Regions from separate parts of the Homo sapiens genome. Here regions 1, 2, 3, 4 and 6 are each reported to be linked to region 5. The links are microRNA targets in miRTarBase. Many come from high-throughput screens and were not tested one by one. Region 5 holds a microRNA gene; each other region holds the end of a gene's coding sequence.

Evidence for each region. Region 5 holds the annotated microRNA hsa-miR-124-3p (UAAGGCACGCGGUGAAUGCCAA, at 1,278-1,299, opposite strand). A microRNA usually pairs through its seed, bases 2 to 8, with sites in the 3' UTR of a target mRNA and lowers its output. Matches are read on the target gene's strand: a 7mer-m8 pairs with bases 2 to 8, a 7mer-A1 pairs with bases 2 to 7 and ends in A, and an 8mer does both.
Region 1: miRTarBase lists PHF21B as a target of hsa-miR-124-3p. The part of its 3' UTR that is shown has no 7-base or 8-base seed match.
Region 2: the mRNA of ACAA2 is a reported target of hsa-miR-124-3p. Seed matches in the 3' UTR shown: 7mer-A1 at 1,603-1,609 and 7mer-A1 at 1,643-1,649.
Region 3: the mRNA of AP1M2 is a reported target of hsa-miR-124-3p. Seed matches in the 3' UTR shown: 7mer-m8 at 1,182-1,188 and 7mer-A1 at 1,201-1,207.
Region 4: the mRNA of BCL6B is a reported target of hsa-miR-124-3p. The part of its 3' UTR that is shown has no 7-base or 8-base seed match.
Region 6: the mRNA of AIF1L is a reported target of hsa-miR-124-3p. Seed matches in the 3' UTR shown: 7mer-A1 at 1,242-1,248, 7mer-m8 at 2,316-2,322 and 7mer-A1 at 2,415-2,421.

The regions. Positions count from the first base shown.
Region 1 is chr22:44,878,193-44,883,366 of GRCh38, reverse strand. PHF21B (PHD finger protein 21B) reads left to right here. Exons shown (of 13, transcript NM_138415.5): 13 at 63-2,205. The coding sequence ends at 281. Among named protein-coding and RNA genes, the nearest start is that of ARHGAP8, 130 kb to the right of the region's middle.
Region 2 is chr18:49,779,917-49,785,158 of GRCh38, reverse strand. It overlaps ACAA2 (acetyl-CoA acyltransferase 2), which reads left to right. Exons shown (of 10, transcript NM_006111.3): 10 at 1,228-2,995. The coding sequence ends at 1,312. Among named protein-coding and RNA genes, the nearest start is that of ACAA2, 31 kb to the left of the region's middle.
Region 3 is chr19:10,568,732-10,573,973 of GRCh38, reverse strand. AP1M2 (adaptor related protein complex 1 subunit mu 2) reads left to right here. Exons shown (of 12, transcript NM_005498.5): 12 at 886-1,303. The coding sequence ends at 908. CDKN2D (cyclin dependent kinase inhibitor 2D) reads left to right here and starts at 4,995. Exons shown (of 2, transcript NM_001800.4): 1 at 4,995-5,242. RefSeq lists a silencer at 4,729-5,242.
Region 4 is chr17:7,026,244-7,031,485 of GRCh38, forward strand. It overlaps BCL6B (BCL6B transcription repressor), which reads left to right. Exons shown (of 9, transcript NM_181844.4): 6 at 214-378; 7 at 462-592; 8 at 707-844; 9 at 1,260-3,401. The coding sequence ends at 1,376. Among named protein-coding and RNA genes, the nearest start is that of BCL6B, 5.8 kb to the left of the region's middle.
Region 5 is chr8:9,902,122-9,906,121 of GRCh38, forward strand. MIR124-1 (microRNA 124-1) reads right to left here and starts at 1,351; the gene lies at 1,267-1,351. It overlaps MIR124-1HG (MIR124-1 host gene), which reads right to left and starts at 1,208. Exons shown (of 3, transcript NR_024281.1): 1 at 1-1,208. LOC124902057 (a long non-coding RNA gene) reads right to left here. Exons shown (of 4, transcript XR_007061170.1): 2 at 3,038-3,241; 3 at 2,411-2,507; 4 at 1,949-2,066.
Region 6 is chr9:131,119,237-131,124,478 of GRCh38, forward strand. It overlaps AIF1L (allograft inflammatory factor 1 like), which reads left to right. Exons shown (of 6, transcript NM_031426.4): 6 at 999-3,908. The coding sequence ends at 1,086. Among named protein-coding and RNA genes, the nearest start is that of NUP214, 3.7 kb to the right of the region's middle.

The DNA.
Region 1 (5,174 bases), not on the chromosome of region 5:
TGCCCCAGGATGGCTGTAGAGCCGAATACTGAGACCCTTTCCCCTGACCTTCTCCCCAACAGAAATGCCTGGAGTTGAAGACAAGCCTGCTGGCCCGCCAGAGGGGCACCCAGTCATCCCTGGACCGCCTGCGGGCCCTCCTGAGACTGATACAGGGCGAGCAGCTGCTCCAGGTCACCATGACGACCACTAGCCCTGCCCCACTGCTGGCCGGGCCCTGGACCAAGCCCTCAGTGGCAGCCACACACCCCACCGTCCAGCACCCCCAGGGCCACAACTGACCCCGAGGGACCAGTCTTCATACCCACGGAAAGTTATTGGGACCCTGCTTACACAGCCTGGGGGTTCTGTCGGCCTTAATTCATAAACACTATGAATTTCAGACAAAAATTAACCAGACAGAGGAGAGGAGGGAGGAAGAGCTGGGCGAGAGGCCTAGAGCCAGGACCAGGTGGGGGTGCGGCCCTGTGCCCTCCAAATTCACAGGGGGTACCTAGGAGCCAGGTGGGGTACGACAGGCTGGGGCACACAGTCTCCCCCCGGCCACCTCGGGGCTGCCTGGGCCTCTGGCTTCCAGGCCCTGCTCTCCACGGCCTCCCTCTGGCCCGTTGGAGGGGCAGGCTGAGGCTGTGGAGGGGACAAGCACGCCCCCCAGAACGCAGTCTCCACTGAGGGCACCGCCTATTGGTGTCCTGTGGGAGGGCGAGCTGAGAACACATGGACTAGCTGAGTGGTAGCGGTAGTTGGGACGAGAAGCGGGGTAGTGGATCTAGGTAGTTCCTCAATGCCCCACGCTCCTAGGAGGTCCCCCTGGGGTGGGCGGGCGGGCCTGGGGCACTCCGTCGCCTTTGCAGAACCACCTGGGCCCCTTTCTGTCAGTATTATTAGGGTTACGAATTGCAGCTGTTTAACTTGAAAGACACTGTCGGAGGTGAGCATCTGGGCGCCGGGACGCTGCAGTGATCCCCGCCAGAGCCTGTGCCCTTCCTGCTCCGTCTTTGGGGTCCTCAAGGCTGCCTCCTTCCTTTTGCCAATCTCTTGGACTCAGTTTGCCGTTGATGCGTTTTTCTCATGGAGTTTCTGGGCAGAGTGGAGCTGCAACCCTGTTGTGGGGGGCAGCATTTGGCAGGTTTTCTCCTTGGGGTTGAATCATTCAACTTAACGACTGAAGCCCTTTCTTGTCTCCTTTGGAAGAGCCGATAAGTATTCCACTCCTCCCTTCTTGCCAGTGCAGACACTATGCCAAAAAATAACTTCACACTTTTGTATGGCGTTTTTATTGTGAGATATTTAATGTGAATGGTTGGGGGGACTCTGGCTGACTTCCTTTCTGCTTCTAGTAGTCTCTGCTTCAAGGTACAAATGGGAACACCTCCCCTCGGGAAGCCTGGCCAAGCTGGAAGATCCGGCAGGTTTTTTACGAGCCGGGTGGAGGGTTGGGGAGGAAAGAAAGGGCGGTGGCTCGGGAGGTTCCGGCCTTCGGGGACCAGACTTGCTGCCAAGGGCTTCTGCATCCAGGGTGGGCAGTGGCAGCTTGTCACCCTTGCCCGATTCCCACATCCCAGTCCTGAGGGACTCAGCACAACAGGATAAGCGTCCAGGAGCCACGGGCTCCCACCCCGAGCATATCACATGGTGCCGAATTGCACTGAACACGCGTGTGTGCATCGCACGCGGCCACGACCACAGACACGCATGCACACACGCAGAGGTGCAGAGCGAGGAGGCCGGCAAATCCCGCAGCTGCCACGGTCCCTCCTGTCATTCTCACGACTCCGGGAGAAACTGTGCTGTATGATACAGATCTATTTTAATACACTTACCACTGGGTGAACAAGATTTTTATATTCTTTTATTGATGAACAAAGTGAACCGTGTGAGGCACACGTCTTCTATATTGGCTACTCTGTGCCAAGTATGCATTACCGCGTGGCTTGCGATGTCCATGTCTTCAGCTTCCTTTTCTGTTGGTTTGGTTTTCTTCGCGGATGGATTGAGTTACATGTTTTAACAGTGTAATGGGAGGATCTGAAAGGTTGGACCCGGGAGGGGTAGCTGCCGATGTGTCTTGAGATTGTTAGGTTTTTTTTGGACCAAGGAGGACCGTCCAGTGGGTAGTGAGGATAGAGAAAAAGTGTTTGTCTTAAATACGCCAATGTAGTTTTCCTTCTTTACAATGTATTAAACTCGATCGATGATTTCAAAGCCCTGTGGTTTTGGTGTCCTTGCGTTGCGGAGAGGCCCCCGGGAGTGCCCAGGGCAGCCAGGTGGGCGTTGGAGGGGCTGGAAATCAGGGTCTTCTCCCATCCTGAGGAGGGAGGGATGGAGGGAGGGAAACAGGGAGAGAGCTCAGTGCCCTCCACTCACTCACCCCCGATTCCCAGTCCTCAGAGGCGGCGGGTGACCCTTTAGGGCTAGGATTGAGGGTGGAAAGTCTTGGAAACCCAGCAGGTCTGTCACTGTGCAGAGCCCAAGGTGGTGCCCTCTGCTCCCTCATGGGTTCCTGCCTCTCAGCCTGGCAACATCACCGCTGTCTCTCTCCCCCAGCAGCGGGTACAGGCGCTCCTGCAGCCACGCTGAGCTTACACCTTGCCCTACAAGAGGTGGGGAATCAGCCCCCCTGAGTCCTAGCTCCTGGCATTGCACGGGGGACTCTGATTGGCCAAGTGGGTCGGGGCCGACCCCTGGGCAGTTAGCTGTGGCCAGAGGCTGGGGTCTAATGCCAAAGTGGGGTCCGGTGCCCCAGGGGACAGAGAGGTGGAGGGCATGCAGGGCTGCCACACAGTCCCGCTTCATGGCTTGCCCTGGGGAGAATAGTTTGGGAGGAGGGGAGCAGGTTTCAAGTCAGCTCTGCCTGAGCCCTCCTGGGGGCCACTCAAAAGACCACACTCGGCATCCGTGGCTCACTCCTGTCCTCTTTGGATTCTCTTCAGTCCGACTCCCCACCCCTTTGCACCTCTGGAACACCAGGTCAGTAGTGACCTCCCATGGCCAGATCCCCGGGGTGCTCCCGGTCATCACCTGGACCTCTCAGAACCAGAGGACACATTGGCCACACCCCCTGCCAAAGGAGGCTCCTGGGACCTCACTCCTGCCAATGTGGCTGCTCCCTGGTCTCTGCTCCAGACTTGCTTCTCTTCTACCTAATCACTGAAGGCCCAGGTCTGTGTTCAGATCTCCCGCAGCCGGCCTTCACCTGCCCCTGGCTTCTGTCTGTACCCCCAGGCCCACTGTACGGCTGCGGGTGTCTCACGCTCTGCACAGTCTCTACCAGGCCAGTCCCTCCCACCTCCCCATCTCAGAGGAGCTTCAGGCTGCTGGGGCTGGCACCCTGGGAGTCACTCTTGGCTCTTTTCTCCCACCTTGCATACCTGGTCCTTGGCAAATCCATCAGCTCCGCCCTCAGGACATAAGCAGGATGGGACAAGCCTCACCGCCCACCCCAAAATCACCTTGGTCCCAGCCCCATGATCTCCCCTGGATTCCGGCAGCTGCCACCCACCTGCTCTTTCCAAACCCTGCCCCGCTGCAGTCTCTTCTCAACCCAGCAACTAGTGTGATGGCGACGCTGTCAAAACCCTGCCATCCGGGCGCCTGTAATCCCAGCTACTTGGGAGGCTGAGGCAGGAGAATCGCTTGAAACCGGAAGGTGGAGGTTGCAGTGAGCTGAAATCACACCGCTGCACTCCAGCCTGGGCGAAAGAGCGAAACTCCGTCTCAAAAAACAAACAAAACCCTGCTGCCCTGTGTCTCGTTCAGCAAAAGCTAAAGGCCTCACCCTACTCACCTTACTTGTGCCTCCAGGGCCACAGGCCCCGCTTGCTCTGGCCTCTGGTTTATGCCCTGCTCCTCTCCTCCTTGCCTGCCTCCTCGCTTGCTCCCACCGCAGGGCCTTTGCATGTGCTGTGCCCTCGGCCCCCAGCCATCTCCCTGAAGACCTGACCCTGAGCACCGCCTCCTCGCAGTGCCGCCTTCCAGCCCCCTCGCCAGGACCCTGGCATTGCCTGTCCTTCTGCCTGCTCTTTGGTTCCTTGAGCTTCCACAGCCTGCTGTGTGCACCCCTGTGGGTTTTTATCTGTCTACTCAGGAAGATAGGGAGTTTGGTTGGTTTTCTTTCCAAACCCCAGCATCTAGAAGTGCCTGGCAAACAGTTGGCACCCAGCATAGACTTTGGAGAGACAGAGCTGCTAGGCCTTGGGGCTGCGCCATCCTGGTTCAGGGCCCTCCCCTGGGGAGTCCCTTAGGCCACCCCAACTGCCAGGTGAGGCTGGGCAGGCAGATGAGAAAGCAGAGGCCAGGAAAGGGATGGAATTGCCTGCGATCCTGCAGGTGCCGAGTGGACGTGCCTGGACTCCACTCCGTCCTTGTCCTCCAATCCCATGCGGTTCCATCACAGCCATACTCCCAACCAAGAGCAGGGCTCAGGGGCAGCTCCTGTGACCTCCAGCTCCCGGACCGTGCAGGGACTTCCCTCCAAAGCACCCCTCACTGCCCTGCCCCTCTACTCCAGCAACAGCAGCTCCCTCCCTCCCTCCCAGGGACAGCTCTGCCATTAGAAGGGGGCTCCCACGATGTGCAGACATCTGCCGCCTGTAGCTCAACACACCCCACCCCACAGCACCCAGGGGACCCTGTGCTGAGACAAGCCTCAGTTTGGGACAGCGGTCACTCCAGGACCCTCACTCCCAGCTCCATCTAACACGGCCCCTGGAGAGCAGGGTGCCCAGCTCAGGGTGGGCTGGCTGTCCAGGGCAGGCGGTCAGCATGGAAGGAAGCTTCTCTTTGGCAGATCCCAACTGCCAGCATCCCTTGGGGGCCATTGTTAAGTAGGGGGTGAGGGTTGCTTGAGCACAAACACAGGGACACTGCAATGGTCGAGCTGATCAATGAGATGGTGGCCAAGTGACTCATGAGCAGGTAGCTGGACGGAGGGACGCTTCCTATCCAGGGCGGGACACTGCTTATGAATTGTTTATTTCTGGAAATTTCCATTTAATATTTTTGGACTGTAGTTGACCATGAGTAACTGAAACTGCAGATAAGTGGGGATTACTGCATAAGGGTCATTGTACTGGGGGTTAGGACTTCAACCCTGGGGCACACGACTTAACCCTGCTATGGTTCGAATGTGTCCCCTCCAAAATCCAGCTGTTGCCTGTGTGATAGTATTAGGT
Region 2 (5,242 bases), not on the chromosome of region 5:
TTTTATAGAAATGCATGGATTTAGGCTTCCCCAGAACACTCCAACATTTTTCATTCTTCTTCATGTCTCCTGCACTGGCTGTTACCAGGAACAAGTTACTTGGGCAGTGCTTTTCATCTGGTCTCATAGATGAGTCAGTCACCTTGTTAGTGGCTTTGCACTTAAGAACCAAGCTCTTCCTCTGTGTGTCCAGTCTCTGTGCACTGTGTGCCCCACTCAGCTTGTGTTCACTGCATGAGCAGATAATGAGGCCCTGCTTCTCATGGCACTTGTATTTTAGTGCCAGTTACAGGAGTAAAATAAATCTATTTTAGAAAAAAAAAGTACTGAGTGAGTACTGATCTAGATGCCATAATTTATGAAATCTAAGCAAACTGACATTTGGGTCTAAGTTTTTCTTTTCACTGCTTGCAGGGTTCCAGGAGGAACCTTTTGGGTGTTTGGTGCTTTTCAGTTTTGATAGATAGTACCAGAAGGAGGAGCTCTTCTATTTTTGGAATATTTTGCTCTGTAGAAAAATTGCAAACAAAACCAAGTAAGTCAGGCTGAAAAATTACTCTGACTCCCTGTTAGGCCAGGGGAAATGTGACTCTTATTTCACTTAATGATTCCCTGAGTTGAAATAGGTGATTGCCACATACAAAAGTAATTCCTGGATAATTTTCTCGAAGTCATCATATTAGGAGTGAGGAGTACTTTAAAAGAGTCTAATTTTTATGAAAGGGACATGGATAGTTTCTAAATTATCTGCCCTTTCATAGGGACAAACTTTATTAATTACATTTCTTCTAAGGTGCCATGAGGCTCTCACACTATATAAATCAAATATATAAATCAAAGGAGCTTAATGTTCATCCCCTTCCCCAGCTTCCCATTTATCCAGTTACCTCCTCTTCTCACTCCTTTCCCGTAACACACACAAGCTTCTGTATGTGTTTCATATACCCTAAATCTACTCTATAACCCTAAATCCACTCATCTCCTTTTTAGTTTGCCTCCCTCTTCTGGTGTTTGTTTTTGTTCTTTGTTTTTTGTTTTTTTTGATTAAAAACTTTCAGCTTTCCAAAGTCTGTTGCCTGTTGTAATTATACCAAAATTGAGGACTGGGGAAAAGATTGAGCAGATGAGCTGAATAAGGATGAGTAATGCAGATGTGATGTTATTAGTTCTATTTCATTAATCTGATTTTTTATTAGAGTAGATTTCAGTCACTGCTTTCTTTTTCAGGCGTCGAGGTGGAAAATATGCCGTTGGATCAGCTTGCATTGGAGGTGGCCAAGGTATTGCTGTCATCATTCAGAGCACAGCCTGAAGAGACCAGTGAGCTCACTGTGACCCATCCTTACTCTACTTGGCCAGGCCACAGTAAAACAAGTGACCTTCAGAGCAGCTGCCACAACTGGCCATGCCCTGCCATTGAAACAGTGATTAAGTTTGATCAAGCCATGGTGACACAAAAATGCATTGATCATGAATAGGAGCCCATGCTAGAAGTACATTCTCTCAGATTTGAACCAGTGAAATATGATGTATTTCTGAGCTAAAACTCAACTATAGAAGACATTAAAAGAAATCGTATTCTTGCCAAGTAACCACCACTTCTGCCTTAGATAATATGATTATAAGGAAATCAAATAAATGTTGCCTTAACTTCAGTTAATATTTTCCTGTCATTTATATTTTTAAAAATTTTAAATTGTGATAAGATACACATTACATAAACTTTACCATCTTAACCCTTTTTTAGCGTACAATTCACTGGTATTAAGTACATTCACATTTTTATACAAACATCCCCACTTTTTATCAACAGAACTTTTTCAGTCACCACACATGGAAACAATAACTCCTGATTCTCCCATCCCCCATCCCCTGACAACCACCAGTGTATTTTGTTTCTATAAATTTGATGACTCGAGGTACCTCATAAGTGAAATTATAAATATCTGTCCTTTCGTGACTGGCTTATTTTACTTTACTTTATATAATGTTCTCAAGATTCATCCACCTTATGGTGTAGCATGTGTCAGAATTTCCTTCTTTTTAAAGGCTGAATAATATTCTGCTGTGTGTATAAACCTTACTTCCTTCTTCCCAGCTTAAAGGCCATCTTTCATCCTTTATTTTCTCCCTTTAAAATGCCCCCACAACACTTCCATTGCTTTATTTGTCTGTTCTAAGACTGGATATCTAGTAGGGCAAGGCCCTATTCTTGTTAACTTCATCAAAGAGCCACTGGAAATTTTAATTAAGATTAAATTGAATTTATGGGTTATACATTTATTGGGGGGAAATTTTTTTTTTTTTTTTTGAGACAGAGTCTCGCTCTGTCCTCCAGGCTGGAGTGCAGTGGCGCGATCTCAGCTTACTGCAAGCTCCGCCTCCTGGGTTCATGCCATTCTCCTGCCTCAGCCTCCCCAGTAGCTGGGACTACAGGCGCCTGCCACTACGCCCGGCTAATTTTTTGTATTTTTAGTAGAGATGGGGTTTCACCGTGTTAGCCAGGATGGTCTCGATCTCCTGACCTCGTGATCCACCCGCCTCGGCCTCCCAAAGAAGTGCTGGGATTACAGGCGTGAGCCACTGCACCCGGCCTTTTTTTTTTTTTTTTGAGATAGCATCTTGCTCTGTCACCCAGGCAGAATTGCAGTGGCACAGTCATGGCTCACTGAATAATAGATGTTAAATAATACTAGATGTTAAATAATAGTATCATAAGTACCTACACTGTTTCCTCAACCCTTTGCTTATATGGTTTCCTTCATTTGATTAAAAAGCTGAAGTGGCACATACATCCCCCTTTCTGTCATAGAGAGGCAGATGACAAGCGGCCTACCCACGGTTTGGGATAATGGACTAGTGGCAACAGGCAAGTCCAGCTTTTATTGTTTGGGATCCTTACTGAGAAGCAGCAGGCTTCCTCTACTGTCATAAAAATATTAAAAAGTAAGAGCCCTGTATAATTTCTCATAATAAAACAATGTTTTGCAGAACATTTTGTTTTTTACATATTCTTCGTTTGTTGTAACTTATAATAAACTTTCTCTGGGATGAAATGACCAAGGTCACATGTTACCATCTTCTAGAAACACTAGTGATAGTTTATCAAGCCTATGAATTTCCAGATGAAGAAGGAATTGTCGCCAATAGCTGAAGCAATCCGCTTCCCAGGGCATCTCCTGGCACAGGCCTTGGTAAAGGTTTATCGCTTTTCCCCATAAAGGTCTTGTGTAGTTTTGTTATCCAACTGAGACCTTTTTCCTATTTTCTTTTACATTTGATTATTGCTAATGAATAGCTTTTGGATATTATATATCTAGCCAGCTTGTGGAACCCTTTTATTAATTTGAATCATGCAGATAGTATCTCATTTATTTTTATTGCCTTTTTGCCTTGTGCTGAGACCACTGGCGCAGTACTGGAGGAAATAAAATGTGGTAATGCTCATATTCGTTCCTCACTAAGTTGATGCTTACAGTAGGTTTCTGATAGATAATGCTTTATCAAGGTCAGGAAGTTTCCTTCTATTCTTAGTTTTCTTAAGGACTTTATGAGTGGTTCATTCATTCTTCACTCTAATCTTACTTGGCTGCCACCACTTAAGCCACAGTTCTCTTGCTCATGCCACCCTTTATGTTCATATTGCCAGAACTAGTGGAGATCTTTCTGTCTTCACCTTATTTGACTTCTCCAAAACATGACCCAGTTGACCACTCCTCCTTGAACTGACTTCTGTTCATGTCTCTGCTTTTCCACTGCCTCTCAGGCCATTCTTTTTCATCTTCTTGGGCAGCTGCTCCACTGCTGTGAGTTTCTTGGGATTGGTTTTTGGATTTGTGGCGATTTCTTTCTATGATTCTAAATACCATTACATTTGGCTGGGTGCAGTGGCTCATGCCTGTAATCCCAGCACTTTGGAGGCCAAGGCCAGAGGATCACATGAGCCCACGACTTCAAGACCAGTCTGGGCAACATAGTGAGACCACATCTGTACAAAACAAAAAACCAGAAAAATGAGCTGGGTGTGATGGCATGTGCCTGTAGTGCCAGCTGCTCAGGAGGCTGAGGTGGGAGGATTGTTTGAGCCCAGGAGGTTGAGGCTGCAGTGAGCCGTGATTGGGCCACTGCACTGAAGCTTGGATGACAGAGTGAGACCCTGTTTCAAAGTACATACATATATACATACATAATATATCATCACATTTACATCCCAGCACTGGTCTCTACCTCCAGACTGCTGTAGCAAACTCCCGTCTTGACTTTTCTCACAGATGTCTTCTTAAACATGCCCTGAGCAGTAACTTTTATCATATCCCACTTAACCAGCTCCCTCTTCAAGTTCTTCTCAGTGCCAGTAGCTCAAGTCAGAAATCCAGGCATTTCCCTCAGTTCTACCCTCTCCCTCACTCTTCATCTCCAGTCTATCAGCAAGTATTATCAGTTCTTCCAAGATATAGCTCAAATACATCCATTTCTTCCCCTCTCCACCTCCACTACTGTGGTCCTAAGCCACCAGAATCTCTTGCCTGGACAACCACAAGAGCTTTTAGAGGCTCCTACCTCCATTCTTACCCCTCTTCAGTCATTCTCTAAGAAGCCACCAGGAGCATCTTTTAAAAACTCAAACTATGGTGACTCTAACGTGATCTCAGGCCACTCCTCTAGCTCCCAGTGCTTCAGACAAATGGCCTTTCTGGGGACGGCTTGCACACCATGCTCTTTCATGCCATAGGGCTTTGGCAGATGTTCTTTCCTGTGCCTTCCTGGGCCTGGGTCCCGCTCACCAAGTCTCAGATGCTTCCTCTTCAGTCAGGTTCTCTGTTCTGTTCACCCTAAGTTCCTCGCCCTGAGACTTTCCACTGTAGCACCCTGACCTTTATGGAACTTTCCTGAATTCATATTCACTTAGTAGTCCATTTACTGTCTCACTCCCTCATTAGACTGTAAACTCCATAAAGGCAAAGACTTCATGTGTTTAGCACAGCGCCTGGCACATGGTAGATGCACAATAATGTTGTTGATGGAATGAGTGCTTGGATGGATGGGTGAATGGATAGATGGACAGATGATGTTTGAAGAAATTATAGCATAAAAATTGCTTAATCTTCAAAGGATTAAGAGATGGATGGGGCCGGGCACAGTGGCTCACACTTGTAATCCCACCACTTTGGGAGGCTGAGGCGGGTGGATCACCTGATGTCAGGAGTTCGAGACCAGCCTGACCAACATGCTGAAACGCTGT
Region 3 (5,242 bases), not on the chromosome of region 5:
AATGGGGGCAGTTGGCTGGGTGTGGTGGCTCACATCTGTAATTCCAGCACTTTGGGAGGCTGAGGTGGGAGGACCGCTTGAGCTCAGGAGTTCCAGACCAGCCTTGGCAACACAGCAAAACCCCTTCACTACAAAAAATATAAAAATTAGCCAGGTGTGATGTGCACACCTGTAGTCCCAGCAACTCAGGAGGCTGAGGTGGGAGGATCGCCTGAGCCCAGGAGGTCGAGGCTGTAGTGAGCTGTGATTGCACCACTGCACTCCATCCTGGGCAAGAGTGAGACCCTGGCTCAAAAAAAAAAAAAAAAAAAAAGGAAAAAAAAGCAGGGACAGTTGTCAGCGTCAGTTCTAGGGTGGTCGCGAGTTTGGAGAAGGGGCTGAACATATAGCACCTCCATCTGCTGCCTGGAAACTGCCTTGTTTCTATGGTTACAGTACCTGTGTTTAGCCCCATTCTTAGCCTTGTTGATCATGAGTGCTGGGATAGGGGATGAATTGAGGGGCTGTGGGAGGCTGTCCCTCTTCCTTCACCCCTCCCCATTTCTTTTCTTTTTTGAGATGGAATCTCACTCTGTCGCCCAGGCTGGAGTGCAGTGGCGCAATCTCAGCTCACTGCAACCTCCACCTCCTGGGTTCAAGCAATTCTTCTGCCTCAGCCTCCCTAGTAGCTGGGATTACAGGTGTGCACCATCATACCCAGCTAATTTTTGTATTTTTAATAGACATGGGGTTTCACCATGTTGGCCAGGCTGGTCTCGAACCCCTGACCTCAAGTGATCCACCTGCCTCGACCTCCCAAAGTGCTGGGATTATAAGCGTGAGTCACCGTGCCCGGCCCCCCTCTCCCCATTTCTGAGATGGCCCCTCCTCATTCTTTCTCTGCAGATTACCAACTTCGTACCAGCTAGAAGGGAGAAGAGATGGGGGCTTGAACACGGGGCTTCCTTACAGCCCCGGATGCAGATTTTAGAGGGAGGGCAGGTGCGGGCTGTGTGTGTCTGTGTGAGGGCAGGTCCTGGACTTGGCAGTTTCTTGCTCCCAGCACCCGCCCCTTCCTCACCTCTTCCTTATTCCATAGGCTGGGAGAGAAACTCTCTCTGCTTCCCTCGCCCTTGGAGCTTTCCCCATCCCCCTGATTTTATATGAAGAAATAGAAGAGGGGCTTGAAGTCCTCCTCGCGAGTGCCTTCTTGCAATTACCTGCCTTAGCGGGTGTTGCGGGTCCCTCCTTCACAGCCGCTGAGCCCAGAGGTCCCGCTGGCCCCTCCTCTGAATTTTAGGATGTCATTAAAAAGATGAATCTAGCCGCTGCCTATGTGCTTGTTTGGGGACATTACTGAAGTGCTGCAATGGGAGTGGGTAACACGTGTCAGTCCATTCCTCAGTCCCGGGTCATGGCCCTGGTCCTCTGCTGTTGCCTTTGCTTCCCACCTCCACGGTCTGTTCCCCCAGTAGCCGCTAGAGGGCGCGTGTTAGCATCGCTTCTTTTTTCCTTTTTTCTTTTTTCTTTTTTTTTTTTTGAGACAGTCTCACTGTAGCCCAGGCTGGAGTGCAGTGTCGCGATCTCGGCTCACTGCAACCTCCGCCTCCCAGGTTCAGGCAATTCTCCTGCCTCAGCCTCCCGAGTAGCTGGGATTATAGTCGTAGTCGCCCACCATCACGCCTGGCTTTTTTTGTCTGTTTGTTTGTTTGTTTTGTTTGAGACGGAGTCTCAGTCTGTCGCCAAGGCTGGAGTAGTGCAGTGGTGCGATCTCGGCTCACTGCAGCCTCCGCCTCCCGGGTTCAAGCGATTCTTCTGCCTCAGCCTCCCGAGTAGCTGGGATTACAGGCGCCCATCACCACACCTAGCTAATTTTTGTATTTTTAGTAGAGACCGGTTTCACCATGTTGGCCAGGCTGGTCTCGAACTCCTGACCTCATGATCTGCCCGCCTCGGCTTCCCAAAGTGCTGGGATTACAGGCATGAGCCACTGCGCCTGGCTTAATTTTTGTTTTTGTTTTTGTTTTTTTGAGACGGAGTCTCGCTCTGTCGCCCAGGCTGGAGTGCAGTGGCGCGATTTCGGCTCACTGCAACCTCCACCTCCCAGGTTCAAGCGATTCTCCTGCCTCAGCCTGCTGAGTAGCTGGGATTACAGGCGTGCGCCACCATGCCCCACTAATTATTGTTATTTTTAGTAGAGACGGGGTTTCACCATGTTGGTCAGGCTGGTCTCAAACTCCTGACCTCATTATCCGCCCGCCTTGGCCTCCCAAAGTGCTAGGATTACCGGCGTGAGCCACCGCGCCTGGCTTAATTTTTTTTTTTTTTTGAGACAAGAGTCTTGCTCTGTCGCCCAGGCTGGAGTGCAGTGGCGTGATCTCGGCTCACTGCAAGCTCCGCCTCCCGGGTTCATACCATTCTCCTGCCTCAGCCTCCCAAGTAGCTGGGACTACAGGCGCCCGCCACCACGCCTGGCTAATTTTTTGTATTTTTAGTAGAGACGGTGTTTCACCGTATTAGCCAGGATGGTCTCAATCTCCTGACCTCGTGATCCGCCCGCCACGGCCTCCCAAAATGCTGGGATTACAGGCGTGAGCCACTGCGCCCGGCCTGTATTTTTTAATAGAGATGGGATTTCACCATGTTGGCTAGTCTGGTCTCGAACTCCCCACCTCAGGTGATCCACCCGCCTCAGCTTCCCAAAATGTTGGAATTACAGGTGTGAGCCACTTCGCTCGGCATTCCTATCTTATTAAAGCCATGGCCTGGTCGGGCGTGGGCGACAGAGCAAGACTCTGTCTCAAAAAAAAAAAAAAAAAAAAAAAAAGGCCGGGCACGGTGGCGGGCGCCTGTAGTCCCAGCTACTCGGGAGGCTGAGGCAGGAGAATGGCGTGAACCCGGGAGGCGGGGCTTGCAGTGAGCCGCGATAGCGCCACTGCACTCTGGCCTGGGCGAGTGAGACTCCGTCTCAAAAAAAAAATTAAAAAAAAATTAAAATAAATAAATAAATAAAAAAGCCATGGCTTGATTTGCACAATTGCCATCCTGATACCCCACCTACCTGCTCTCCCCTGCTCTGTACCACACCAGGCACGCTCTCACCTCTGGGCCTTAGCATCTGCTGTGCCTCCCAGCTGGTGTGCTTTTCCCCATATAACCACAAGTCTCCCTCCCTCACCTTTAGGTCTCAAATCAAATGTCACCTCTTCAGGGAGGCCCTCCCTGCCTTTGCGTTTCTTTTTCTTTTCTTTTCTTTTCTTTTTTTTTTTTTTTTGAGACAGAGTCTCACTCTGTTGCCCAGGCTGGAGTACAATGGCGCGATCTCGGCTCCTGCGACCTCCGCCTCCTGGGTTCAAGCGATTCTCCTGTCTCAGCCTCCTGAGTAGCTGGGATTACAGGTGCGTGCCACCAGGCGCAGCTAATTTTTTTTTTTTTTTTTTTTTTTTTGAGACGGAGTCTCGCTGTCGCCCAGGCTGGAGTGCAGTGGCGCAATCTCGGCTCACTGCAGGCTCCGCCCCCTGGGGTTCACGCCATTCTCCTGCCTCAGCCTCCCGAGTAGCTGGGACTACAGGCGCCCGCCACCTCGCCCGGCTAATTTTTTATATTTTTGGTAGAGACGGGGTTTCACCATGTTGGTCAGGCTGGTCTTGAACTCCTGACCTCGTGATCCGCCCACCTCAGCCTCCCAGAGTGCTGGGATTACAGGTGTGAGCCACCGCGCCCGGCTTTTTGCCTTTCCGTTTCAATGGCTCATCTGGTCAGTCCTCTACCACTCTAAAAAGATTTAACTATTGGCGGAGAGCAGGAGCTCACGCCTGTAATCCCAGCACTTTTGGAGGCCAAGGCAGAAGGATCCGTTGAGCCCAGGAATTCGGGACCAGCCTGGGCAACAAAGCAAGAACCCCAACATAAAAAAAAAAATCTGTATTTAAAAGCCAAACACAAATAACAAACAAAAAACACCAGCCTGGGCAACATAGTGAAACCTCATATCTACTAAAAACACAAATTAGCCGGGCGTGGTGGTGCGCCCTGTAGTCCCAGCTACTCGGGAGGCTGAGGCAGGAGGATCACTTGAGCCCGGGAAGTCGAGGCTGCAGTGAGCTGTGATCGCGCCACTGCACGCCGGCCCGGGTGACAGGAGTGAGACCCTGACTCAAAAATAAATACATATATAAATAAAAATTAACTATTGTCTCTGGCCCCAGACCATAGGTGTCCCTGCAGCAGGGGCCGACTGGCGTGCTCTCCACTCGGGCCCCTCTAGGAGGTGCTAAGTAAATATTTGAACGAAGACCTCTGAGTCCCTGTCTGGCTGCGACTATGTCCTCTCAGGCCTTCCCACGTGGCAGCTGCAGGCTCCTTTCCTGCTGGCTCAGTCTGAGCCCGGCAGGGTGATCCCTTCCTCATCCACTCCGTCTCTCCGTTTCCCTTTCTTCACGGTGCTTGACACTATCTAATATTATTTGGTTGTTTGAATGTGCGCGTCCAGCTCCCAGGACGCTCCCTGCACACAGTGAATGAATAAATGAATGAAATAAAGCGCCCAGCTCGTAGTAAGGGCCAATGAATGTCTATTAGTAGTGGAACCTCGGATTGGGTGGCTCCAGCCCTGCCTCCCTTCCCTCAGGAGGCGCCGAGGTCCCAGAGCAGCCCGCGCGACCCTGCCCCTGACCTTTCTCCCTGGGTCAGTTAAACCAGCCTTCTTTCCCGCCTGCCGGGTTCATTTGAAAACCGAAAACCCCGCCATTGCCGGCGGTCCACCGGTTGCCACACTCTGACCAATCAGGAGCGACGCGTTTCACGCCGAGCCCGAAGTTTCCCCGGCGACGCGCAGCCACTGGTTATGCAGGCCCTGTGGGCGGAACGCCGTAAGGTCGCGCGCCGGGCAACGCGGTGCCGCTACACAGTAGCGAGTTTGTAAGAAAACAAATCAGTTGCGTTCGGGGCGTGGCCGGGAGCACGTTGGCTCCGCCCCCTGGCGGCTGCCTCAGCGGCGGCGGCGGCGCAGGCTCAGAGCAGACCCCGCCCGGCGAGGAGGAGGGAGGGTGAGTTAGGGGGAGACCCGGCCCCCAAGGGGCGGGCGCCGGGCAGGGCCCCGCGGGCGGCCGAGGGTTGGGCCCGGCTCCCAGCCCCTCGCCGTCCTCCGGCTGACAGGGGGAGGAGCCCGCCGGGAGGGCCGGGGTCTCGGGCTGGGGAGCCGGGACGGGAGAGCAGCGCAGCCGGGTGCACCGCGGCCGCGCCCCGGGAGGGCTGTTCGGGC
Region 4 (5,242 bases), not on the chromosome of region 5:
ATTAGCTGAGTACTCGAGTCAGACAGATGTGCAGTCAGATCTGGCTCATCTTACTATCTTCTTACTTGGCCTTGAGCAAGTCAAACCAGCCCCAGAAGTCTTAACAATAAATTGGGAAACAGAAAGCCTGCTACTGTGTGGTTTGAGGATTCAGTAGTACCTAGATAGCCCTCATTAATAACTATGGTTGCCGTCACCCATTCCCCTTCCCAGGAAGTGAATTTTTCAGCTGCCAGAACTGTGAGGCTGTGGCAGGGTGCTCATCGGGGCTGGACTCCTTGGTTCCTGGGGACGAAGACAAACCCTATAAGTGTCAGCTGTGCCGGTCTTCGTTCCGCTACAAGGGCAACCTTGCCAGTCATCGTACAGTGCACACAGGTAGGGGAAGAGAGGGCCCTGGCCTTCAAGCCCACAGCTGTCCTAGGGCAAAGTCCCTGATCTCCCATGTTCTCTGCCTCCAGGGGAAAAGCCTTACCACTGCTCAATCTGCGGAGCCCGTTTTAACCGGCCAGCAAACCTGAAAACGCACAGCCGCATCCATTCGGGAGAGAAGCCGTATAAGTGTGAGACGTGCGGCTCGCGCTTTGTACAGGTACGGAGCCAGCCTCCAAGTGGCTTCCAAGGCAAACCTGCAAGAGGTGGGGTGGGCCAATAGGGAGGGTTCTGTTCCTCCCAGAGGCAGGACTTGAAGTCTCCTCCCTCCCAGGTGGCACATCTGCGGGCGCACGTGCTGATCCACACCGGGGAGAAGCCCTACCCTTGCCCTACCTGCGGAACCCGCTTCCGCCACCTGCAGACCCTCAAGAGCCACGTTCGCATCCACACCGGAGAGAAGCCTTACCACGTGGGTACCCAACCTGGCCTGCCCACTGCCTTAGAATTACCTCTCCTTTGCCTAGGGGTGGGCTCTGAGAGGTGCGGGCCTGGCTGTCCCTAGATCTCTTAGAAATGAGCGGTGGCCGGAAGAGTCCAAGCAAATAAGGGGTGGAGGCTGGGAGTCAGGATGGGCAGGTATAGAAGTGATGCTCCTGGGCTGAGCACTGTTTTCTCAGAGAGGAGCTGAGAAGTGGGAAAACCTTTGCTAAATAAGGCGGGGCCTATCCCCTCAGCCACCCCTGAGGATTTGGGAGGATGTGAGAGTCAAAGAGCTGATCTTCCGCTGGATAGTTCCCACCTGGGAGAGCTGGACGGCCGCCCGGCTCAACACCTAAAAGGTGATTGTGGATGGGGCAGGGCCTGACTTGGCTGTCCTCCCACAGTGCGACCCCTGTGGCCTGCATTTCCGGCACAAGAGTCAACTGCGGCTGCATCTGCGCCAGAAACACGGAGCTGCTACCAACACCAAAGTGCACTACCACATTCTCGGGGGGCCCTAGCTGAGCGCAGGCCCAGGCCCCACTTGCTTCCTGCGGGTGGGAAAGCTGCAGGCCCAGGCCTTGCTTCCCTATCAGGCTTGGGCATAGGGGTGTGCCAGGCCACTTTGGTATCAGAAATTGCCACCCTCTTAATTTCTCACTGGGGAGAGCAGGGGTGGCAGATCCTGGCTAGATCTGCCTCTGTTTTGCTGGTCAAAACCTCTTCCCCACAAGCCAGATTGTTTCTGAGGAGAGAGCTAGCTAGGGGCTGGGAAAGGGGAGAGATTGGAGTCCTGGTCTCCCTAAGGGAATAGCCCTCCACCTGTGGCCCCCATTGCATTCAGTTTATCTGTAAATATAATTTATTGAGGCCTTTGGGTGGCACCGGGGCCTTCATTCGATTGCATTTCCCACTCCCCTCTTCCACAAGTGTGATTAAAAGTGACCAGAAACACAGAAGGTGAGATCACAGCTCTGCTGGCAGAGATTACTAGCCCTTGGCTCTCTCGTTTGGCTTGGGTATTTTATATTATTTCTGTCATAACTTTTATCTTTAGAATTGTTCTTTCTCCTGTTTGTTTGCTTGTTAGTTTGTTTAAAATGGAAAAAGGGGTTCTCTGTGTTCTGCCCCTGTAATTCTAGGTCTGGAACCTTTATTTGTTCTAGGGCAGCTCTGGGAACATGCGGGATTGTGGAATTGGGTCAGGAACCCTCTCTGGTATTCTGGATGTTGTAGGTTCTCTAGCAGTCTAGAAATGGATACAGACATTTCTCTGTTCTTCAAGGGTGATAGGAACCATTATGTTGAGCCCAAAATGGAAGTAATAATAAATGCCTCCTGGAGGCTGTGGGTGTGGGGGATTCTGTATCTGGATTCCGTATCACTCCAAGTGGAGGCTGGCAGGTTTTTCTGCAAGATGGTCCAGAATCTAAAATGTCCCATTAATCTGGTCACTTGGGTTTGGCTCTGCTGTATCCATCTATAGTGGTAGAGACCCACCAGGGCTCAAGTGGAGTCCATCATCCTCCCACGGGGGCCTGTTCTTAGCACTGAGTTGATCGCTCCATGGGGGAGAGATCAGACATTCCTTATCAGAGATGATGTGACCTTTTCTGACTCTGCCCAGTCTCTATGAATGTTATGGCCTAGGGAAGAATCATGAAACTCTTTAGCTTGATTAGATGGTAAACAGTGTTAACCCATCCTTTACTACAGAGGCATATGGGTTTGAATGTTACCTGGGGTTCTCTCTATTGAGTTGAGCCCCTTCTTCCTTTAGTGGGTTTTGGACATCTTCTGGCAAGTGTCCAGATGCCAGAACCTTCTTTTCCTCTAGAAGGGATGGTGCTTGGTAACCTTACCTTTTAAAAGCTGGGTCTGTGACCTGGTCTTCCCATCCCTGCATTCCTGTCTGGAACCAGTGAATGCATTAGAACCTTCCATAGGAAAAGAAAAGGGGCTGAGTTCCATTCTGGGTTTGCTGTAGTTTGGTTGGGATTATTGTTGGCATTACAGATGTAAAAGATTGACTAGCCCATAGGCCAAAGGCCTGTTCTAGTTGACCAAGTTTCAAGTAGGATTAAGAGGTTGGTTGAGGGGTGCAGTTTCTGGTGTAGGCCAGGTAGGTAGAAAGTGAGGAACAGGGTTGCCTCTTGGCTGGGTGGAGTCTCTGAAATGTTAGAAGAAGCGCTGAAGCCTTGATTGATAGTTCTGCCCCTTGTTGCCCTGGGGCTTATCTGATTATGGGACGAGGGTAGAAAGTAAGAAGCACTTTTGAATTTGTGGGGTAGAACTTCAACAATAAGTCAGTTCTAGTGGCTGTCGCCTGGGGACTAGTGAGAAAGCTACTCTTCTCCCTCTTCCCTCTTTCTCCCCATGGCCCCACTGCAGAATTAAAGAAGGAAGAAGGGAAGGCGGAGGAGTCTATAAGAAGGAATCATGATTTCTATTTAGCAGATTGGATGGGCAGGTGGAGAATGCCTGGGGGTAGAAATGTTAGATCTTGCAACATCAGATCCTTGGAATAAAGAAGCCTCTCTGTGCTGCCTGCTGTGTCCTGGGTTCTTGCCTTGGGGGACTCGGGGAGCGAGGAAGAGAGCTCTTCCTCCTGGATAACATCTTGGATTCTGTACCATTCCACTGTCCCTTCCCACCAGACATTTTAAATGGTCCTCGTTGTCCCCTTCCCTGCCCTTGCCTTCCTGCTCATTGTGTAGGAACCAGTGACTTCATGAAGTTTCTCCGGAGCCACCTGCATCCTGCTGCTCTGAAGTCACTTCCTGCCTGAGGTGTGGAGGCTGCAGGGAGAAACCAGGAAGCCACTAATAATATCAAGAGGCCGGGGCGTGCATCTGTGCTGGAGATCTTAATGCTGGCGACATGCCTCCATCACCAAGGAAGATGGATAAGAGTTGGGTCCCGTAAAGACCACAGGGGCTGGAGGTGGCACTGAGAAGACTGAGTTAGAACTAACGGGCCAGCCCACCCTCCCCCAGCAAGGGTATCTTGAATCTATCCAGGGTCCAGTGCATGCATCTCTCCCACCCTTTCCCCTGTCCTGTGTGTGTGCTGGGTGCGGAGGTCACTAATTCTGATATTACCTTCCTCTGGGCCTTAAATTCCTCATCTGTGAAAAAGTCAGTTACCATGATCTCTGCAGCTACCTCCAACATTGAAAGTTTGTAGTTGTCTTAATCTGTCTTCTGTTGCTTATTATAGAATACTGAATCTGGGCAACTTATAAAGAAAAGGAAATTATTTCTTACAGTTACGGACACTGAAAATTTTGCCCAAGGTCAAGTGGCCACATCTGGTGGTGGTCGTCTGGTTGGTGGGGGCTCTCTGCAGCACAGGAAACATTGCCAGTGTGCAAACATTGCCAGTTCAGGTCTCTCTTCCTCTTCTTATAAAGCCACCAGTTCCCCTCCCGTGATAACCCATAATCCATGAATGGCAGAACCCTCGGGATCCAATCCAATCATCTTTTTTTTTTTCTGAGACAGAATCTCGCTCTGTCTCCCAGGCTGGAGCGCAGTGGTGCAATCTCAGCTCACTGCAAGCTCCGCCTCCCGGGTTCACACCATTCTCCTACCTCAGCCTCCCAAGTAGCTGGGACTACAGGCACCCGCCACCACACCTGGCTAATTTTGTATTTTTAGTAGAGACACGGGGTTTCACCGTGTTAGCCAGGATGGTCTCAATCTCTTGACCTCGTGATCCGCCCACTTTGGCCTCCCAAAGTGCTGGGATTACAGGTATGAGCCACCATGCCCAGCCCCCAATCATCTCTTAAAAGCCCCAGCTCTCAATACCGTCATGTTGAGAACTAAAAGTTTCCATATGAATTTTTAGAGGAGACATGCAAACCATAGCATTCTGTCCCTGGGCCCCCAAAACTCATGTGCTTCTCACATACAAATACATTCATTCCACTCCCATAATCCCAAAGTCTTCACTCATTGCAGCATCAAAGTCTCATCTGTGAGCTAGTTATCTACTTCCAAGTTATGGAGCAAGTTATCTACTTCCAAGATATAATGGTGGGAACGAGCATAGTGTACACATTCCCATTCCAAAAGGGAGAAATAGGCAAAAAGAAACGGGTGAAACAGGCCCCAGGAAAGTCTGAAACCCAGTGAAACCCAGCAGGGCCAACATGACACCTTTTTTTTTTTTTTTTTGAAAGGAATCTAGCTCTGTCACTCAGGCTGGAGTGCAGTGGCGCGATCTCGCTCACTGCAACCTCCGCCTCCCAGGTTCAAGCGATTCTCCTGCCTCAGCCTCCCAAGCATCTGGGATTACAGGTGCCCACCAACACACCCAGCTAATTTTTGTATTTTTAGTAGAGATGGGGTTTCACTGTGTTGGCCAGGCTCGTCTTGAACTC
Region 5 (4,000 bases):
AGGGCTTGATTATTGTGTCAGGAATCAAATTAATCTCCTAAGCATCCCTTATGGCCTTGGCCTTGCAAAGCCAGGCCTCTGCCATGCTCGGGGGAAGGGATGCAGCAGGCTTCCTGGGCAGAAGGATCCAGCTCTTGGCCTCCTTTCTCTGCTCCTCCCTCTACTGCAGGGACCTGCCCCTCCTCCATTTCCTCCACCTGGAAATTAATGAGCTTAGGTCTTGCCCCATCCGCTGCAGCTTGGTGGTTAATACAGAGCTGGAAATGGGATGAGACTGTGGCAGCGCAGTACGAGGGGGGTCTCTAGGACCAGCTGCTGCTCAGGGTCTAGTGATGGGAGGAAGGCCTGATTTGGGAAGCAGGTTCTTCAGGATGAAAAGCTTAACCCTTTCCATTCCCTGACAGCCTCTTTCAAAACAGTCTTTCCTCAGACCCCCAGTTGCACACATTCTGTTTTTCCTTCTGTTCACATTTTTAAAGGAACACATGTCTCCCTTGGGTCCATGTAGGTTATTGTGCCTCTCCCTTCCTCTGCAGCTCCTGGATCTCTGCCTGAAACTGCAATAACAGCTACAGGGAGGGCGTGAGGTGCTCCTTAGAGCCATGACCACGCTTTCAACTCCGATAGAGCTTGTGAACCCGCTGGGAGCTGGCTCCTTCTTGTCCACATAGCCCAACGACTTCCTTAAGCTTGTCAGGTGCTCTCAGCTCTACAGCAAAGTGTGACAAACAGCTCCCCCTCTCCCTTCCTACCGCCTGCCCTCCTCCCCAAACCTCAAGCAGAACACAATATATCCGCAGTCCAGGCCCTGAGGCAGTCTGCCAGTCTCTGGATGCCAAATTATTATTTTTTTAAGGGCAAACCAAAAAACTCAGCTCAGAACAAAAACACAGTCACGGAGGAAGGTGTTGACCCACATACAATGAGTCCTGAGCCCAGAGAAAAATCTGCACACACAAGCACTCCGCAATGCGCTCCCAGGCGACCCCCTCCCCACGCACACCGCATCTGTGCTGCACAGATCTGCTTCTGTCACAGAATCAGCTTCTGTTTCTCTCCCTGAGTCTGTTTGCATCTCTAAGCCCCTGTCTGTCACAGGCTGCACACCTCCCCACCCCACGGGCTCCGGTGCGGGACAGGCAGCCGGAGGGAGCTCCAGACCCCTCCCCTCGCGCCCGCGGCCGCTGCGCGGAGGTCTGCGGAGGGCGCCTGGCTCGGTCGGTCGCTCCTTCCTTGGCGGGCCCTCGCCGACCCACGGTGCTCAGCCAGCCCCATTCTTGGCATTCACCGCGTGCCTTAATTGTATGGACATTTAAATCAAGGTCCGCTGTGAACACGGAGAGAGAGGCCTTTCTCCTGAGGAAGGAAAGGAGGAAGGAAGGAAGGAAAGGTGAAAGAAAGGAAGAGGGGTGGGTAGAAGATGGAATAAGAAAACCAGGAAAAAGAAATAAAAAGCGGCGCGTGTGCGTGCGCACTGACAGCGGGGAGAGGGATGGGGGTGGGGAACGCCGGAGGAAGGGACCACAGCATCCTCCCCGCCGCAGCTCCCCCAATCACACAGACAATGAGATAACAGCGACGTCTTCCAAAGGCTCTTTGTTCTCCCCCATCCTTTCGCATCCAGGCTTTTTCCTGCAAAGCGGAGGGGGTGGAGGGATGGGGGTGTGGGTGGAAGTGGGAGACGGAGGGGTGCCTCCCCCGTGTTAATTACCCCGGCTCCCCTCGCCCCTTTCCCCGCGCCTCGCCTCCCCTGCAGCTCCAGACAATGAAAAAACAACATCGACCCCACCTCGCCCCAGCGCAGCAACCCACCCACCCATGTCGCCCTCTGCTTCGCCCAGGAAACTGAAGGGGACTAGGAGGAGGAAGAAGAGAGCGAAGGACAAGGAGAGCAGCGGGGACTCGGCAGCGGCAGCCGGGGCAGGGCGCGCGGCCGCCGCCTCTTTACCTCCATCGCTGAGTGGGGGCGCAGCCGGGCCGGGCGTGCCGCAGGGGCGAGTTGCCGCGGTCCGGGGCTGGGACCTGGGGATTCAGCCTTCCGGAACTCGCCTGCTGCAGTCCTCTCGCTCAGGTCCCAAGTGGTGGAGGGGGGAAAGGAAGAGAGACGAGAGAGAGAGAGACAGAGAGAGAGAGAGAGAGAGGAAGAAGAAGAAGAAGAAGAAAAAAAAACCATAAGAGCGAGGCCCATCTGGCCCCTCATCAGCTTTGTCAAGTCTTGCATACGCTAAAATGCTAATGACCTAGATAGCTCATGCAAAATGCAGCAGGGAGGGCGGGAGCGAGGGAGGTGGGAGGGAGGAAGAGAGAGGAGTGCAGGGGGGAGGGAGGGAGGAGAGGCGGAGGGAGGGAGAGAGGGAGAGAGCACCCCTACACTCTCCCCACCCCACCCCCAACTGTCAGCGGGCTTTACCAGGTAAAGGGTGGACGTAGATTTAAAAGGTCACTCGTGTATAATGCGGCTGGATCCCCGGGTCAAAAAAAGGGGGCGAGACAGAGGATGAGAGTCCCTAAAGCCAAAAGGACAATAAGACATCATTTTAAGCCCCCACCCCCATGCCCTCCTCCACCTCTCCACACTGTTTACACACAAATCCTGTCGCCGCCTCATGCATGTGCACGGACATGTCAATTTCTCATCAATTTCTCAGCGCTCCTATCGACAGACACCCGAATTCTCATTCCCAGCAAAACTCATCCACTGGACCCGAGGGAGGAGAAGACCCCTTCTCCTCCTCAGTGCTCTTCGGGCTGGCCCATCCCTACTCACCTCCATCTCCACTCTCTACTCCCTTAGCCCTCCAGGCAGCAGAGGGCTCCTTCTCTTTTCTAAGCCTTGAGTCCCCTGTCCCCTTTCCAACCCCCGCATCTTGAGAAGGAGACGCAGAGTAGCAGGAAAGCCAAGTCAAGTCCACCTAGGTCTCCCACAATTCAGCTACCCCTCCCAGAAAAAAAAAGAGACCCCAACAACCCCGACCCCTCTCCTACGTAGACACTGTGAAAGCAAGCCACAGGGACAAATAAAAGACAATCCGAATACCCTCAGCGTTCCGCACGCCGGGCGGACGCCCTTCCGCAGCGGCCACGCGTGTTCTGGGTTCAGCGCTCCTGCGCGTCCCTTCTCGCCGAACCCAAGGTGCTTTGTCCCGGCGGCCACACAAGGTCTTCGGCTTTTTGTTCTCCTTTTTTAAGAGACTGGCCGCAGTCCCCAGCGATTCAGCCGGCCCAACCAAAGGCAGTGGATCTACTGAAATGAAAAGGATCGAGATAATACACAGGCAGATGAATAAGGGGGGGGATGCTGGAGGTGCAGGAAGCATCCTGGGAGCGGCCGCCACGGCCAAGCCCGAACTGCTTGCTGCCTTCGCTGGGGAAGGCGCAGGAGGCGAGCCGGCGCTGGTGGTCGCTCCACCTGGCAGGAGGAAATGATAACCATGATAAGGAACGTGATGATGATGATGATGATGATGATGATGATGATGAGCATGATTTAAAAAAAATCAGTCTCCCTCTTGGTGAACCAGAGCATGCGTGCCGGAGGGACTGCACTGCTGGCGGCGGCGGCCGGGGGAAGGAGAGCGGCGCAGGAGGCAAAGGTTGAGGAGGCAGCACCCTCGGATGAATAATAACACCGCGCCGCGCAAGTTGCGGAGCCGCCTGGAAATCCAGCCCTTCGCGTGAACTCGCGTCGAGCGCGGATTGCAGGGGATGAGGAAGAAGGGGGAGGGGAGGGGAGGGTGGAGGAGGGAGGGGGAGGGGTAGAGGGGAAGGCAGAGAGGGACAGAGAGAATTGGGAGCCTTTTAATTTTTCCTTACCAAGCCCTAATCTCGTGCGCCGTCCTCTTTGGCTGAGGTCGAGCTCCTTTTTAAAAATTATTACTCCTTTAAAGGATTATTCAGGTAAAGGAAGCCGCATCTGCTGACGGTTCCGAAAACAAGAGGATTAGGAGCCCGTCCACAGATCCAGGCCCGCAGACCCCCACCCCCTCTGCACCAGCACACG
Region 6 (5,242 bases), not on the chromosome of region 5:
ACGCCTTTAATCCCAGCGCTTCGGGAGGCTGAGGCCGGTGGATCACCTGAGGTCAGGAGTTCGAGACTAGCCTGGTCAACATGGTGAAACCCCGTTTCTACTAAAAATACAAAAATTAGCTGGGTGTTGTGGCTCACGCCTGTAATCCTGGCTACTCGGGAGGCTGAGGCAGGAGAATCACTTGAGCCCAGGAGGCGGAGGTTGCAGTGAGCAGAGATCGTGACATTGCCCTCCAGCCTGGGCGGCAAGAACAAAACTCTGTCTCAAAAGAAAAAAAAAAAAAAAAAGAAAACAGAAAATAACACTTACTTGGCTTTTATGAAATAAGATTCACTTTTTTAAAGTACGAATGTAAAATATACCTGTCTCATTTTACAAAGGAGCTTGTTGAGGCCCAAGGAGACTGAGTACCTGGCCCATGAGCCCACGGTCCAATCTGGCCAGATCTTCTAGCACCCCACTTCCAGGGAGAAACGCCAAGGATCAGAGAGGTCAAGTGTCTTGCTTGAGCCACCCGGCTGGGAAGTAGCAGGGCTGGCATTTGAATCTAGGCAGTTGCCCTAGAGGTTATACGCTGAGCCCCTACCCTCTACTCCCCAGACACCACTCTCAGAGCAGTGGGCAGGTTTTTGAAGATCTTTGCGCAGAGGCGTGGCCCAGCCTGGCTCAGCCTCCTCCAGGCAGTGTGGTTAAGGGAAGGGTATGGCCTGGAAGTCAGAAGCCTGGAGTCGTACCCAGCCTCTGCCCTGGACCGCCTGTGTGGTTCTGAGGAGTCATATCACCACTTTGCGCCTCCATTTTCTCCTCTGTAAAATGGGACTAGCAGCCCCTTCCTTGGAGCTGCTGTCTTGGGCTTCTGCAAGGATCCCACTGGAGAACAGATTTAAATTCTGTTGAGGACCCTGCTGACATGAGGCTGGGATGATCTTTCCCTGGATGAGGGAAGGATCCTAATCTTGTTTTTCTTTCTTTTTTTCTTTTCTCCATCTCCAAACCAGAGTCATGATGTTTGAAGGAAAAGCCAACGAGAGCAGCCCCAAGCCAGTTGGCCCCCCTCCAGAGAGAGACATTGCTAGCCTGCCCTGAGGACCCCGCCTGGACTCCCCAGCCTTCCCACCCCATACCTCCCTCCCGATCTTGCTGCCCTTCTTGACACACTGTGATCTCTCTCTCTCTCATTTGTTTGGTCATTGAGGGTTTGTTTGTGTTTTCATCAATGTCTTTGTAAAGCACAAATTATCTGCCTTAAAGGGGCTCTGGGTCGGGGAATCCTGAGCCTTGGGTCCCCTCCCTCTCTTCTTCCCTCCTTCCCCGCTCCCTGTGCAGAAGGGCTGACATCAAACCAAAAACTAGAGGGGGCAGGGCCAGGGCAGGGAGGCTTCCAGCCTGTGTTCCCCTCACTTGGAGGAACCAGCACTCTCCATCCTTTCAGAAAGTCTCCAAGCCAAGTTCAGGCTCACTGACCTGGCTCTGACGAGGACCCCAGGCCACTCTGAGAAGACCTTGGAGTAGGGACAAGGCTGCAGGGCCTCTTTCGGGTTTCCTTGGACAGTGCCATGGCTCCAGTGCTCTGGTGTCACCCAGGACACAGCCACTCGGGGCCCCGCTGCCCCAGCTGATCCCCACTCATTCCACACCTCTTCTCATCCTCAGTGATGTGAAGGTGGGAAGGAAAGGAGCTTGGCATTGGGAGCCCTTCAAGAAGGTACCAGAAGGAACCCTCCAGTCCTGCTCTCTGGCCACACCTGTGCAGGCAGCTGAGAGGCAGCGTGCAGCCCTACTGTCCCTTACTGGGGCAGCAGAGGGCTTCGGAGGCAGAAGTGAGGCCTGGGGTTTTGGGGGAAAGGTCAGCTCAGTGCTGTTCCACCTTTTAGGGAGGTTACTGAGGGGACCAGGATGGGAGAATGAGGAGTAAAATGCTCACGGCAAAGTCAGCAGCACTGGTAAGCCAAGACTGAGAAATACAAGGTTGCTTGTCTGACCCCAATCTGCTTGAAACCTGACTCTGCTTCTCTCATTTGTCTTCCTACCCTACTCACATAATTCACTCATTGACTCACTCATTCACCAGATATTTATTGACCTGCTATTATAAGCTTTACATCCTCCCATGTTGTCCTGGCATGTGCAGTATACACGGTCTAACTCATCTCTCCCCAGATCTCTCAGAACCTTGAGCTTGGGAATTGAACTGGGGTCACCTGTGTCCTTTCTTATGGACTCGCAGGATTTTAGAACCCTAATGCACCCTGGAGGGTAGCTGGGCCAGACTTCTCATTTCACAGGTGAGGAGACTGGTGCCCCACAGGGATTAAGTGCCTTGCCCAAGGTCAGGCTTATCTCCAGAGGGAGGTGCCCTGGACTGGGGCCCAGATGTTCAGGGACCCTGCCTACACCTCATTTCCAGTGTGGGCTGCCTTAGTTAGTTATGAGAACAGGGAAGGGCTGGGAAGAGACAGCCTCCAAGGTCAACACTTGGAGAGGGTTTCACTTGCTCTGAAGACCCTGGTCCAGGATTCGCCCTCTCCCATGCCTTCAAGTCAGCATCAGGCTTAGGGCAAAGACCAGGCCTCTGAAGCTGCCTCTTGTAATTCATGCAGGAAGATGTCAAAGTCAGCCCCATCTTGGCTGATCAGGGTGTTCAGCCTTAACCCCACCTGTGTTCTGAAGTCTCTTACCCTACCTGCTCAGGACTGAGACAGTTATTCACTGAACATATTTATTAAGCACTTGCTGTAGGCCAACAGTTAAGAATCCAATAATGAAATGGACAGATTCATGGAACTTAGAGTCCAATAGGAAAGTGAGACCCAGACAATGACAATGAGATAAATGTTAGGAAGGGGGAGGTATGGGGTGACTTCCCTGCAGTCCTGGGGGCCTAGATGGGCCCAAGACTGGGTGAGAGTCTTGGCAGAGCCTTTGCAACACCTTAAGTGGACAGGACTGGGAGGTCTTGGTGGTTGGAGCCAACGTGGGTTCCCTGCGGCTCCTTAGTCACCTCTGATAGCAGATTGAGGGAGGAAAACAGGTAAGGCATGAGGAAATGGCCAGGTTGGGTTAACCCACTGGTTTCAACCAGTTCAGGAATGAGGTTATTTGGCCATGACTGGCTGATCTTGAGCTCAAGGATCTGCTTCAAATGCACACAGGCCTAGTTGAAGTTTAAACCCCAGCAAAACATTCCTCCCTGTAAATGGAAAATCCTACTTCTACCCCCACCCTGCCCTGTTTTTTGTTTTTTTTTTCCCCAAGATCATTAGATGTCCTCACCCCTCCTCACTGCCTCTCCTCTCTGGGACAGGCTGGGACCTTTGAGGAAGATAAAGCCTTCCTTCACTACCCATCATATTCAGTGTCCCTGTTCCTCACTCAGAGAGGAAGGCAGAACCAGTCAGGCTTATTTCAGTAAGTTCCACAGTTCTACAAGACTGCAGGAATTCTCCTTAAGGGAGGAGAGCAAGCAGGTGTGGCCCCAGCTTCTGGAAATGGCAGAAGAGAGGGTTTTCTCATTGAATGGGGGTGGGGGCTCGTGTGTCCTGGGAAACCCCATCAGTCCCTTCATTTCTTGAGACTCAACTCCTGGGAGGAGAGGGTCTCAAGAGTTGTCCCTGGAAGGAGGGCGGGGGCAGTCTGCATCTATTTCAGGTTGTGGCTCTTGGTTCTAGGACTCTTACTTCTCTGGCTAAGGGCTCAGCTTCTTGGGACTTCAACCATCTTCTTTCTGAAAGACCAAATCTAATGTAACCAGTAACGTGAGGACTGCCAAGTATGGCTTTGTCCCTATGACTCAGAGGAGGGTTTGTCGGGCAAATTCAGGTGGATGAAGTATGTGTGTGCGTGTGCATGGGAGTGTGCGTGGACTGGGATATCATCTCTACAGCCTGCAAATAAACCAGACAAACTTACCAACGTCTTGATTGGTGTATTTTGGGGCTGGTTCTGGGCTCAGCAAATTGCGAACTAGCTAATATAGTAAGAGATTAAATGAGCATGTCCTGTGCCTTTTGTCTGAGACAGCTGAAATTCACTTATCCTAACCACCTCCCTGCAAGAGACAGGTTCTATTATGTCATCCTTGTTTCACAACTGAAAAGTAGGCTTGAATAAGCAATGTGCTGCAAGCCAAACAGTAAATGGCACAATCCGACCCCCCTGGAGCCAACCCATGAGGTCCAAGTTAAGAACCTCTGTCGGCCGGGCGCGGTGGCTCACGCCTGTAATCCCAGCACTTTGGGAGGCTGAGGTGGGCGGATCACGAGGTCAGGAGATGGAGACCATCCTGGCTAACACGGTGAAACCCCGTCTCTACTAAAAATACAAAAAATTAGCCGGGCGTGGTGGCGGCCGCCTGTAGTCCCAGCTACTTGGGAAGCTGAGGCAGGAGAATGCTGTGAACCCGGGAGGCAGAGCTTGCAGTGAGCCGAGATCGCGCCACTGCACTCCAGCATGAGTGACAGAGTGAGACTCCGTCTCAAAAAAAAAAAAGAACCTCTGTCCTAGAGCATTTATAATTCACTACAGAAATGTATTCTATGAAGGACTTTAATACCATCAGTCAGCCTTATCCAGACGATCTCAATTCTAATCCTGTCACCACCACTTTCTGACTGAGGGCTATTGGAGAATTTTCTCAACTTCTCTGTGCCTCCCTTACCTCATCAATTATTATTATGTATGTGTATGTGTGTGTGTGTATATATATATATATGTGTGTGTGTGTATATATATATGTGTGTGTGTGTGTGTATATATATATATATATATATATTTTTTTTTTTTTTTTTTTTTTTTTCTGAGACAGAGTCTCACTCTGTCACCCAGGCTGGAGTGCAGTGGCACAATCTTAGCTCACTGCAACCTCCACCTTTTGTGTTCATGCGATTCTCCTGCCTCAGCCTCCTGTATAGCTGGGAACACAGGCGTCCGCCACCACACCCGGCTAATTGTTGTATTTTTAGCAGAGACGGGGTTTCACCATGTTGGCCAGGCTGGTCTCGAGCTCCTGACCTCAGGTGTTCCACCCACCTCGGCCTCCCAAAGTACTGTGGTTACAGGCGTGAGCCACTGCTCCCAGCCTATTTTTATTTACTTTTTTTTTTTTTTTTTTTTTGAGACGGAGTCTCGCTCTTTCGCCCAGGCCAGACTGCAGTGGCGCTGTCTCTGCTCACTGCAACCTCCGCCTCCCGGGTTCACGCCATTCTCCTGCCTCAGCCTCCCGAGTAGCTGGGACTACAGGTGC